Regions from separate parts of the Homo sapiens genome. Here region 2 is linked to region 1. Evidence: fine-mapped expression QTL. A gene starts in region 1. The other region holds a variant in brackets. All regions are shown on one strand. Distances are between the middles of the regions. Region 1 holds the start of SNHG6 (small nucleolar RNA host gene 6). Region 2 overlaps C8orf44-SGK3 (C8orf44-SGK3 readthrough).

The links. PIP is the estimated chance that this variant, and not a neighbour inherited with it, causes the effect.
Region 2: its variant is fine-mapped to the expression of SNHG6 in whole blood (TOPMed, PIP above 0.99).

The regions. Positions count from the first base shown.
Region 1 is chr8:66,922,590-66,927,589 of GRCh38, reverse strand. SNHG6 (small nucleolar RNA host gene 6) reads left to right here and starts at 2,049. Exons shown (of 4, transcript NR_152600.1): 1 at 2,049-2,153; 2 at 4,865-4,976. It also overlaps a transcript of MCMDC2 not described here. RefSeq lists a silencer at 1,878-2,077 and an enhancer at 1,070-2,269.
Region 2 is chr8:66,804,010-66,809,537 of GRCh38, reverse strand. It overlaps C8orf44-SGK3 (C8orf44-SGK3 readthrough), which reads right to left. Exons shown (of 19, transcript NM_001204173.2): 6 at 5,091-5,163. SGK3 (serum/glucocorticoid regulated kinase family member 3) reads right to left here. Exons shown (of 17, transcript NM_001033578.3): 4 at 5,091-5,163. Among named protein-coding and RNA genes, the nearest start is that of MCMDC2, 64 kb to the left of the region's middle. The variant T/G (reference allele first, on the strand shown) is at 2,234.

The DNA.
Region 1 (5,000 bases):
GAGGTCAATGAATGCCCTGTGAATGCCTGCAGGAGACAACACAAAGCTGTTAGCAACGCAGGAGCTATCCTCTCTGGAACCATGGCAGGGGAATTGTCCATGTTTGCCTCCAGTTATCATATGGCCCTGCACTCAGTGACACCAAGAACTTGCCTAAATTGTTGCCTTAGCATCTATGGATTTAATGTCCAAACTAACTCTCACTTATACCTTTTAGTAATGGTGGCTCCCACAGCTTCCCCTTCACACTGGAGGTGACAGCCCAGGTTGCAAAATTAGGTTGTGGAAGCAACATCCAGCCAGGAATCTTAGTCCAAGAAGCAGGTTGAGGTCCATGTCACTACTTAACAGGAGAAACGGCTTCCATTTGGAGGCCCAAGCAAAGATTTTTAAGCTCCTGTAAAATACTTTGCAATCCTTTGTTAAAGGAGGTACAATCACAATTTGTTTTGCTAGGCTTACTAGGCTTAGATATTCATACTCTATGTTACTTGAGACAAATTGAAATTTTGTACCGGATTTTGTATTCGTTTCTTAGATTTCCGGTGTCTAAAGGAGAGATTGGCCAGGCGCTGTGGCTCATGCCTGTAATCCCAGCACTTTGAGAAGCCAAGTCGAGAGGATAGCTTAAGGCCAGGAGTTGGAGGCCAGCCTGGCCAACATAGTGAGACCCCCGCATTTCTACGAAACGTTTTAAAAATTAGCAGGGCATGGTGGTGAGCATTTAGCTACTCAAGACTGAGGTGGGAGAATCTCTTGAGGATCCTAGAAGATGGAAGCTGCTATGAGCCATGACTGCACTACTGCACTCCAGGCTGAGCAACAGAGGGAGACCCTGTCTCTAAAAACAAAACCAACCAACCAAAACACAAAAACAAATTGGCCGGGCGCAGTGGCTCACACCTGTAATTCCAGCACTTTGGGAGGCCGAGGCAGGCAGATCACGAGGTAAGGAGATGGAGTCCATCCTGGCTAACACGGTGAAACCCCGGATCTACTGAAAATACAACAAAATTAGCTGGGCGTGGTGGCGGGCGTCTGTAGTCCCAGCTACTCGAGAGGCTGAGGCAGAAGAATGGCGTGAACCCGGGAGGCGGAGCTTGCAGTGAGCTGAAATCGAGCCACTGCACTCCAGCCTGGGCGACAGAGAGAGACTCCGCCTCAAAACAAAACAAAAGCCAAAAATATTAAGGAGAGATGACCTATCTTTAAGTGAGTAGATTGTTTAATCATATGCTTTCATGTGTATTCTTTCTGGCAACAAGATCATAAGCCTTTCTGCTCCAGCATCAAGCCCAGTGCTTTGCAGTCAGGATTCTATAATACAATGAGAAAAACAGAAGTAATAAGACGTGAAAATCAACAGCAAATTATAACATGTTCATAAACAAGGTAGGTAACTGCTTTATGAATGCTATATATATGTTTTTTGGTTTGTTTGTTTGTTTTGAGACGGAGCCTTACCCAGGCTAGAGTGCAGTGGCGCGATCTTGGCTCACTGCAACCTCCGCTGCCCGGGTTCAAGCGATTTCTCGTGCCTCAGCTTCCGGGTAGCTGGGACTACAGGCACGCGTCACCACAATCGGCCAATTTTTTTGTATTTTTAGTAGAGATGGGGGTTTCACCATGTTGGCCAGGCTGGTCTCGAACTCCTGACATCGGGTGATCCTCCCGCCTAGGCCTCCCAAAGGGCTGGGATTACAGGCTTGAGCCACCGCGCCCGGCCTTTTAGGGCATATTCTGCTCGTTTGCATCCACTGCAAACTGGTAAATTAAACATTGACTAGCTCTAGCAGAGTTACTCCTGAGCCTGAAAAGCCCCTGCGGGAAGTCACAAAGCCCCCACATAAACTTGCTGTGTGGCACACAGCGTCGCCGCACCGCGCAACCAGGGAAGAGGGCTAAGGTGCGGGTCTCATCTCCCCTCCGCCCCCTCCCCAGAGCCGGTGCACTCAGCCCCCCTTCGCACCCGCGGAGGGGCGGGGCCGCGTACCGGAAGAGGCGGGGCCACCGGAGTGCCTAAGAGCTGTCTTCCGATGTCGCTCTTCCTTTCCCGCGCGACCGGCGAGGGAGGAAGAAGCGCGAAGAGCCGTTAGTCATGCCGGTGTGGTGGCGGCGGCGGAGACTGCGGGCCCGTAGCTGGGCTCTGCGAGGTGAGAGTGATCGCGGTCTTAGGTCCAACTCCTCTACGTGCCGGGTTCCTCCGCCATATGGGTGCCCAGCGCGGCCCCTGTCCCTTCCCCGGGCGCAGCGGAGCGGGCGGCTGCTGCGTAGGCCAAAAGGCTACGCTCCCGGTGCCCCCAAGGCCCACGAGCTTTCCCCACAAGCCATTTGCGCAGTCGCGTTTTGTGAGTAACCACCTGGAAGGCTTAGCTGACCTTTCTCCGTCAACACCGGTTCGCTGTCCTCTGCTCAGAAACTGGGCAAGGGCCTTCTGACTTAAGGAGGTGCCTGCAAGGGACCGTCGGGAGGCTTCGTGCTCCACCCGGTCTTGGCCAGATCTCTCTTGTGTCCCCAGCAAAGTTGTGCGTGCGGCCTTGGCGGTTTCAGGCTCTTAGGCAGCTTGTTTTCCTTAAAAGGGAGCGTTTTATAAATAGGAAGGTGATTATCCCTTAGGTGTCAGGACGACCCTTAGTTAACCGTACTTTGTGAGTGGCTTTGAAACTGTAATGAGCGCAGTTTACTGAGTCATTACTAGTCTCGACCCATTCGTAGAGCTAGTCAGTATTTGTTCCTGGACCTTCCTTCGTAATACGCGCTAAAGTCAAGGCATGGAGGTTGGAGAACAACACGTGCAAGTATAGGAGGCCCTTAGGCTAAATGCCTGCTACACACGGAGATGCTTGTATTTACATAGAGATGTGTATTTCTGGACATAATACAGAAGAAACCGGTCAGCAACTGGGAGGCTGGGAAAACCTGTTAGCTATTCAGAAACTTTTTTTTTTTTTTTTTTGAGCCAGAGTCTGTTCTGTCGCCCAGGGTGGAGTGCAGTGACGCGATCTTGGCTCACTGAATCCTCCACCTCCCGGGGTTCAAGCAGTTCTCTGCCTCAGCCTCCCGAGTAGCTGGGATTACAGGCGCCTGCCACCACGCCCGGCTAATTTTTGTATTTCTAGTAGAGACGGGGTTTCACCATCTGGCCAGGCTGGTCTTGAACTCCTGACCAGCCTGACCACTCGTGATCCACCCGCCTAGGCCTCTCAAAGTGCTGGGATTATAGGCGTGAGTTACCGCGCCCGGCCATAGAAACAAATTTTAAAATTTCATCAGTGAGACTTCGTATAGGTTTTTTTTTTTCTTCAAATTTGAAATGCATTGCTTCGTCTGAAATAATCATTAACTGTCAAGAAGACGAATGTCATGGCTTATCCTTGAAATATTTTAGGTATTATTATTTTTGAGGCTTCAGTAGCTTGAATTCTGTTTTCACTGGTAAGTGCTGGGACTTCTAAAAATTTTCAAACTAAATAATTGATAAAATTGGTAGTGCAGGAAAGTTCTGAAGCATAATACAAAAGAATCCACCGATACATTTGAGAACTATAATATTACCAATACTAGGGTATCTATTGTTTACATTTCCCTGCTTCCTATTCATAGGTACCCACCATTTGGAATTTTGTGCCCATCAGTCTTTTGGGTTTTGTGGGGGAGGGGGGTGGTGTGGATAGCTTTGTGGGGTTTTTTGTTGCTTTTTTGAGATGGATTCTCATTCCTGTCGTGCAGGCTGGAGTGCAGTGGCGCGATGTCAGCACACTGCAACCTCCATCTCCCAGGTTCAAGCGATTCTCCTTCCTCAGCCTCCCGAGTAGCTAGGATTACAGGCACCCACCATCATGCCCAGTTAATTATTGTATTTTTAGTGGAGATGGGGTTTGGCCAGGCTGGTCTAGAACTCCTGACCTCAGGTGATCCACCCGCCCCGACCCCACAAAGTGCTAGGATTACAGGCGGGAGACACCGTGTCCGGCCCATTTTTTAAGCTTTGTAAAGACAGGATTATGCATGTAGTTGTCTGTAGTTCCTGTGAATCATAATATTAAACTGAAACTTTTTTTGTTTCAGTTAATTTTTTTTGAATTATTCAAAACCAGTAGTTTATATTCCTAATACTGATTGTGTGAAACATTTTCAGCATTTCAGCACATGAAAATGATTGTTTTTGCAAGCTCCAACCTTGTATGTCTTCATAAATCATTTCGTATTGCTGCCTGGCTCAATGATTTATTCTCCTGGGCTGCTGTATGACATGATTTTTTGCCCCAGTCCATGTTCTTTGCAGTTTTTAGTTAACTTGGGACTTAATTTTACAGGAATGTGTCCAGTAAAAATGCCAATATAGGTATCCCTGCTCTGAAACTGCTAGGTTTGCCGTTATAATGTTTTTAGGTGAAGGTCTTCACGTTAGTTTTTATACATCTAACCTGGCTCATAGCTCATCCTTGTCGAGCTGTGAGACAGAAAAGCAACGGCTGTGTACTCACTATGACCATTATGTCTTAAAATCAAAACTGCCACAGTGAAGGATATCATGAAATGTTTCCACCATTTTCCTGCCAGTGCTAATGGCTCCTGTTTCCAGTTTGGAATAAGCTCATTTGTGGAAATACTAGGTACTAATGAGACAAACATACTCAGTTACAGAGGTTTGGGTTTGTCAGTACTGACTATCAAAAAAGCAGAAACAGGTAATAGAATAATAGTACTTTTTTATTAAAAAGTGGTTTGGGAGTCTGAAAGGTAGGTTGCAAGTACAGTTCCTAAAGGAATGAGATTCTCTTCTTGGACCATTCCTACATATAAGATGCCCAACAAAATGCAAATAAAAATGGGAATTCGAAATGTAATATTTAATTTCCAGGTGCAAGAAAGCCTTTGAGGTGAAGGTGTATGAAAGTCATCATAACAGATGTTTTCCAAAAACTTGTAGAAGGTTGTGAAAAAACTACTAGGATCACGCGGCATGTATTGAGGTACCTAAATTTAATTAATGTTAG
Region 2 (5,528 bases), 120 kb after region 1:
AGCAAAGTAAATTGGAAAGTCTTTATACTGATGTGCTCTAACCTGCTATGATAATTACTTTCACCATTCTGTCTAATCTTTGCTCAGTGAAAGCCCCGACAACTGGGCTCCTGTGTTCTTTTGATCAAACTTCAGTCATCCTAAATAGCTTCCCTGCTTTCAGGCAAGCTGCCCTGAGATCATCTTGTACATTTCCTGCCCCAGATCTGGGATCACCATTTCTTCAGCAAACTCTGGTTCCTTTGAGAGGGAAATGGTATTTAGAGATCACAATCTGAATGCTAGGGGTGTTGGTTACTACTTGTTATTGCTTTTAGGCATTTCCAGGAGAGAGTGCTAGAAAATATTTTTACTAAGGTAAAAAAATAAATTATGAGCCAGGAGTGGTGGTGGTGTAATCCCAGCACTTTGGGAGGCTGAGGCCAGTGGATCACCTGAGGTTGGAGTTCAAAACCAGCCTGACCAACATGGAGAAACCCTGTCTCTACTAAAAATACAAAATTAGCCGGGCATGGTGGCACACGCCTGTAATCCCAGCTACTCAGGAGGCTGAGACAGGAGAATCGCTTGAACTGGGGAGGTGGAGGTTGTGGTGGGCCGAGATCACGCCACTGCACTCCAGCCTGAGCAACAAGGGAGAGCCTCTGTCTCAAAAAATAAATAAATAAATAAATAAATAATTATTTCAAACTATATTTCCAAATTAAGTTACAAATTACAGGATTTTGCTGAGTGCAGTGGCTCACGCCTGTAATCACAGCACTTTGGGAGGCTAAGGTGGGTGGATCACCTGAGGTCAGGAGTTCGAGACCAGCCTGACCAACATGGAGAAACCTCATCTCTACTAAAAATACAAAATTAACCAGGTGTGGTGGCGCATCCTATAATCCCAGCTACTCATGAGGTTGAGGCAGGAGAATCGCCTGAACTCAGGAGGTGGAGGCTGTGGTGAGCCAAGATCATGCCACTGCACTCCAGCCTGGGCAATGAGAGCGAAACTCCATCTCAAAAAAAAAAAAAAAAATTACAGGATTTTTACTTAAAATCTTTGATTTTGTTTGTATCACTTTCCTCTTCTGCTTAAAATCTTGGTTCCCATGACAGTAACATTAATCACAGAATAACAACGCCATATAACACTAATGAATGCAGTGTAAAATTTGTCCATGGGTTTTTGTTTTTATCCTTAGCAATATATCCCATGAAGAATATACAGTCAAAATCCCATGTTTTAAAGTTACTTAAATTAAGTTAGGTTTTTTCCTTCAGTTTATTTTCAGTTGTTAGAGGCTGCTTTGTTATTGCATTTTTATTTTTGTTTTTAAATTGTTTAAAATAGTACATGGTTCCAAAGTCAAAGGTATGAACAAAATTCATTCAAGGGCATCTAACTTCCACCCCTTTTGCCTTTCCCAATCTCTCCCTCATCCTTAAAGTCACTAGTTTTATTAGTTTTTTATTTATTCTTCCATTATTTCCTTTTGAATCCCCATACCTTTTCCTACAGAAAAAATACACACCATACAAACTCATTTGCTGCACTGTGATTTTTTTTTCCATTTAATGGTATATTCTGGAGATCACACCATAGCAAAATACATAAAGAGCTTTTTTGTTCCTTTTTACAAGTATGTTATATCTAGCTCCACTGGAAAAATATTTTCATTGTTTCCAGTTTTTCTGTTAAAAATTGTGTCACAATACACAGTCTTGTGTGTACATTATATCATATGCAGCTTATTTTAGGGACAGATTCCTAGAAATGTGATTTCTTGGCCAAAGTGGAAAATGCATTCACAGTTTTTCTAAACACTACCAAACTCCCCTCAACATGGATTGTAACACTTTTTATTCCACCAGAAAAATATGGGAATGCCTGTATCCCCAAAGTATAACCAAATGAGCATCTTATCCATCTCTGTTTTTCTGAATTTGACTTAGATCTGATTTCCCCAATGCAGGACTTTCTAATATCTCTGTGACATATGATCCTTTTCACTGTTGCCAAGTCATATTAAATATACGCAGGATAGACAAACAGCTCTTCAAAAAAATCAGTTTTTAGTGTCAATTAATTCATCAAAACAAAGTACCAAAGAGCATTCAGCCTGGTATCTTGCCTTTAACAATGAAGCAGCAATGTTGCCAGTCTTTTACTTCTTTGCTTTCTTTCCTTGATGAAATGATTGTCTTAAGGATTCAGTTAAGGGCTCTACAGAACTCCAACCCAAGT[T/G]CAAGTCTCATATTATCACTAGTAGTTTGATTTCTTAATATTTTTCTGCCACTTCTAATTAGTTAATTGTCTCAGTCACCCAGGGCAGACCCTCCAATTATCTCTCCTCTTCTCTATATGTGTTACCTAAGCAATCATCAAGATGTATTCCAGATTTTTCATTAAAGGAGTTCTTGTACATTGCTCATTTTTAAACCCTATTTCTACCCTAGTCCCCATACTCATTATCTAATGCCAGGGCTATTGGACTATTCCCTTAACAAGTCTCCCAGTCTCTCCTCTGCTGTGCCCACCATAAATTACACACTGTCAGTTTCACATCTTGCTCAAATGCCACTAAGGCCCACACGCTACCCATGAAGATGCTTTTCAACCTGTGCTCCAAGGAGATACTTCACTGTTATACCAATAAAGCAGCTCCATTTAAATTTTTTTCACATATTACATTTCCATAAGATTTCTTTTGTGTTTTCTTTTTTTTTTTTTTTTTCGAGACAGAGTCTTGCTCTGTTGCCCAGGCTGGAGTGCAATGGTGCGATCTTGGCTCACCTGCAACCTCCGACTCCTGGATTCAAGTGATTCTCTTGCTCCAGCCTCCCGAGTAGCTGGGACTACAGGCATGCACCATTATGCCTGGCTAATTTTTCTATTTTTAGTAAAGACGGGGTTTCACCATTTTGGCCAGGCTGGTCTTGAACTCCTGGCCTCAAGTGATCCGCCCACCTCAGCCTCCCAAAGTGCTGGGATTACAGGCGTAGCTACCATATCTGCTCTCTGTAAGATTTCAATTGGGAAAAAAGTGTTCCGCTGCGAAAACAAAGCAGGAGTACAAAAGCCACAGGTCTACAGAATATAATCTGGCTTTGTTGTGCCAACTCAATTTTCTCTTGCTTCTCTTTATTAATGGGTTCATATATTTAGTAATACTTTAAAACCTAGTATTTGCCAGTTTTAAAGTAATAAAATAATACCTTAAAACCAGTATATTGCCACTGTTCGCCAATAAAAAAAGACATAAGTCTGCACCTTCAGAAAATCTACAGCCTACTGTAAGACAGATTAGCAATTACAATGAAATGTGCTATATACTCCCAAGGGGGGAAAAAAAAGAAAGAAAGAGAGAAAAAAAAAACTCTGTATGTAACCAGGGAAGTAAGAACATTCTCCAAACCAGAGGTTCATAAAGTGTAAAGAATAATAAGCCTCCAGTTGAGAGGGCTATAGGCAAAGCAGCCTCTGGGGAAAAAATGTTTTAATTAAAGGAAGAATGTAGAAGAAATATGAAAAAGGTGCAGGATAAAGAGCAGTCCGTTAATGGTGGGCAGAATTATATAGGACACAGTGATATGGTCTGGGAGGAAAACGAATGGTATAAAGTTAGGATGGAGAGAGAAAGCACACTCAATATAAGGGACCTTAGAGCTTTTATCTTGAGTAGTGACCAAGATCTCTCTCTTTCTTTTCTTACACAGACATGTGAGGTATTATCAGTTTAACCAGTTACAAGGTTACAAGCAAATTAGTTGGGGAAGGAGGGCAATCCATTCAGGATTCATCTGTGGCAGAGATAGATGACTTTTCTGATAGAATTTCTGGTGGATAAGAAGACTTTTGTTTCCCTGTAAGTAGCCATCTGTGACCTGGATTAATCTCTTGGGTTCTAGGGGAAAATTCCATGCCTGCAGCTTTAGTCATAGAGGTGCTAGATGCTGAGACCCTCTGTGTCCATGGGTTCCCCAAGGGTAAGCAATAGGATGTCCCTCTCTCTTTTTTTTTTTTTTTTTTGAGATGAAGTCTCGCTCTGTCGCCCAGGCTGGAGTGCAGTGCTGCTGATCTCAGCTCACTGCAACCTCTGCCTCCCGGGTTCAAGCAATTCTCCTGCCTCAGCCTCCCGAGTAGCTGGGACTACAGGCGCCCACCATCATGCCCGGCTAATTTTTTGTAGTTTTAGTAGAGACGGGGTTTCACCGTTTTAGCCAGGATGGTCTCGATCTCCTGACCTTGTGATCCACCTGCCTCAGCCTCCCAAAGTGCTAGGATTACAGGCGTGAGCCACCGTGCCCGGCTTAGGATATCTTTTTGGTATCCCATTCAGAGGCCTACAAGTTACTATGTACACAGTATATATTTAATGTTTCTGAATACAAAAGTGAATATTCTTCATGATACTGATTTAAAGTCTGTAAAGTTTCCCAAATTAACCTGAAGGATCAATTAAAAAATTTTTTAATAGGGTCTCGCTCTGTCACCCAGCCTGGAGTGCAATGGCATGATGACAGCTCACTGCAGCCTTGAACTACTGACCTCAAGCTATCCTCTCGCCTCAGCCTCCTGAGTAGCTGGGACTACAGGTGCACGCCACCATGCCCAGCTAATCTTTAAATTTTTGTAGAGATGAGGTTGCCCAGGCTGGTCTCAAAACTCCTGGCCTGAAGTGATCCTCCTGCCTTGGCCTCCCAAAGTGTTTCGATTACAGGTGTGAGCCACTGTGCCCAGCCCATTGACAGATAAATTTATATAGAAGTCAGACTGCTTGAATTTAACTTCCACATCTGCCCTTTACTATCTGTATGTGGTCCTGGGCAAATTAATGAACCTGTGTTTTATTTCCTTATCTATAAAAATAGTGATAACAACAATACCCACCTCACGAAGTTGTCAGGATCGAATGAATTAAAACACATGAAGTACTTAAAACAATGCCTAGTAGACAGTAAGCACCTTCCTGCGGCATTATTTTCACAGAGCATAAGATCTTTTAAAGTCCTGCACTGCTATACAGTGCAATGAATACATTAATTTACTTCTTCAAACTTCAACAATCACTTCATAGCTGGCCTATGAAGTTGTTTCTTACCTGGATCAAAATTATCACCAAATATTCTCTTGGCAGGAATCTTCAGGGCCATAGCAGGAAACTGTTTTTTTAACTAAAATTTTTAAAAATAACATTATATGAACTAATTTTATAAGTCTTCTAGTTATGCACACATCAAAGCCAAATACAATCTTATTTTAAAGAAAATCCATCATAAGACATACTTTTGAATTTATGATCATCCAAAGTATAACATAAATTATACCAATAAAATGTCACAAACTAATCGTCTTTTTTAGTCCCAATAAAATACCTAGTATCGTGTGACCTAGGATAAAATACTCAACATCTGCGTCTCATTTTCCTGCCTATAAAATGAGGATAATTTTAACAATGACCTTACAGATTTGCTGTGAGTTTTAAAGGAGATCATGTATGGCAAGTGCTAAGGCTAGAACGTGCTGTTACAGTTCCAAA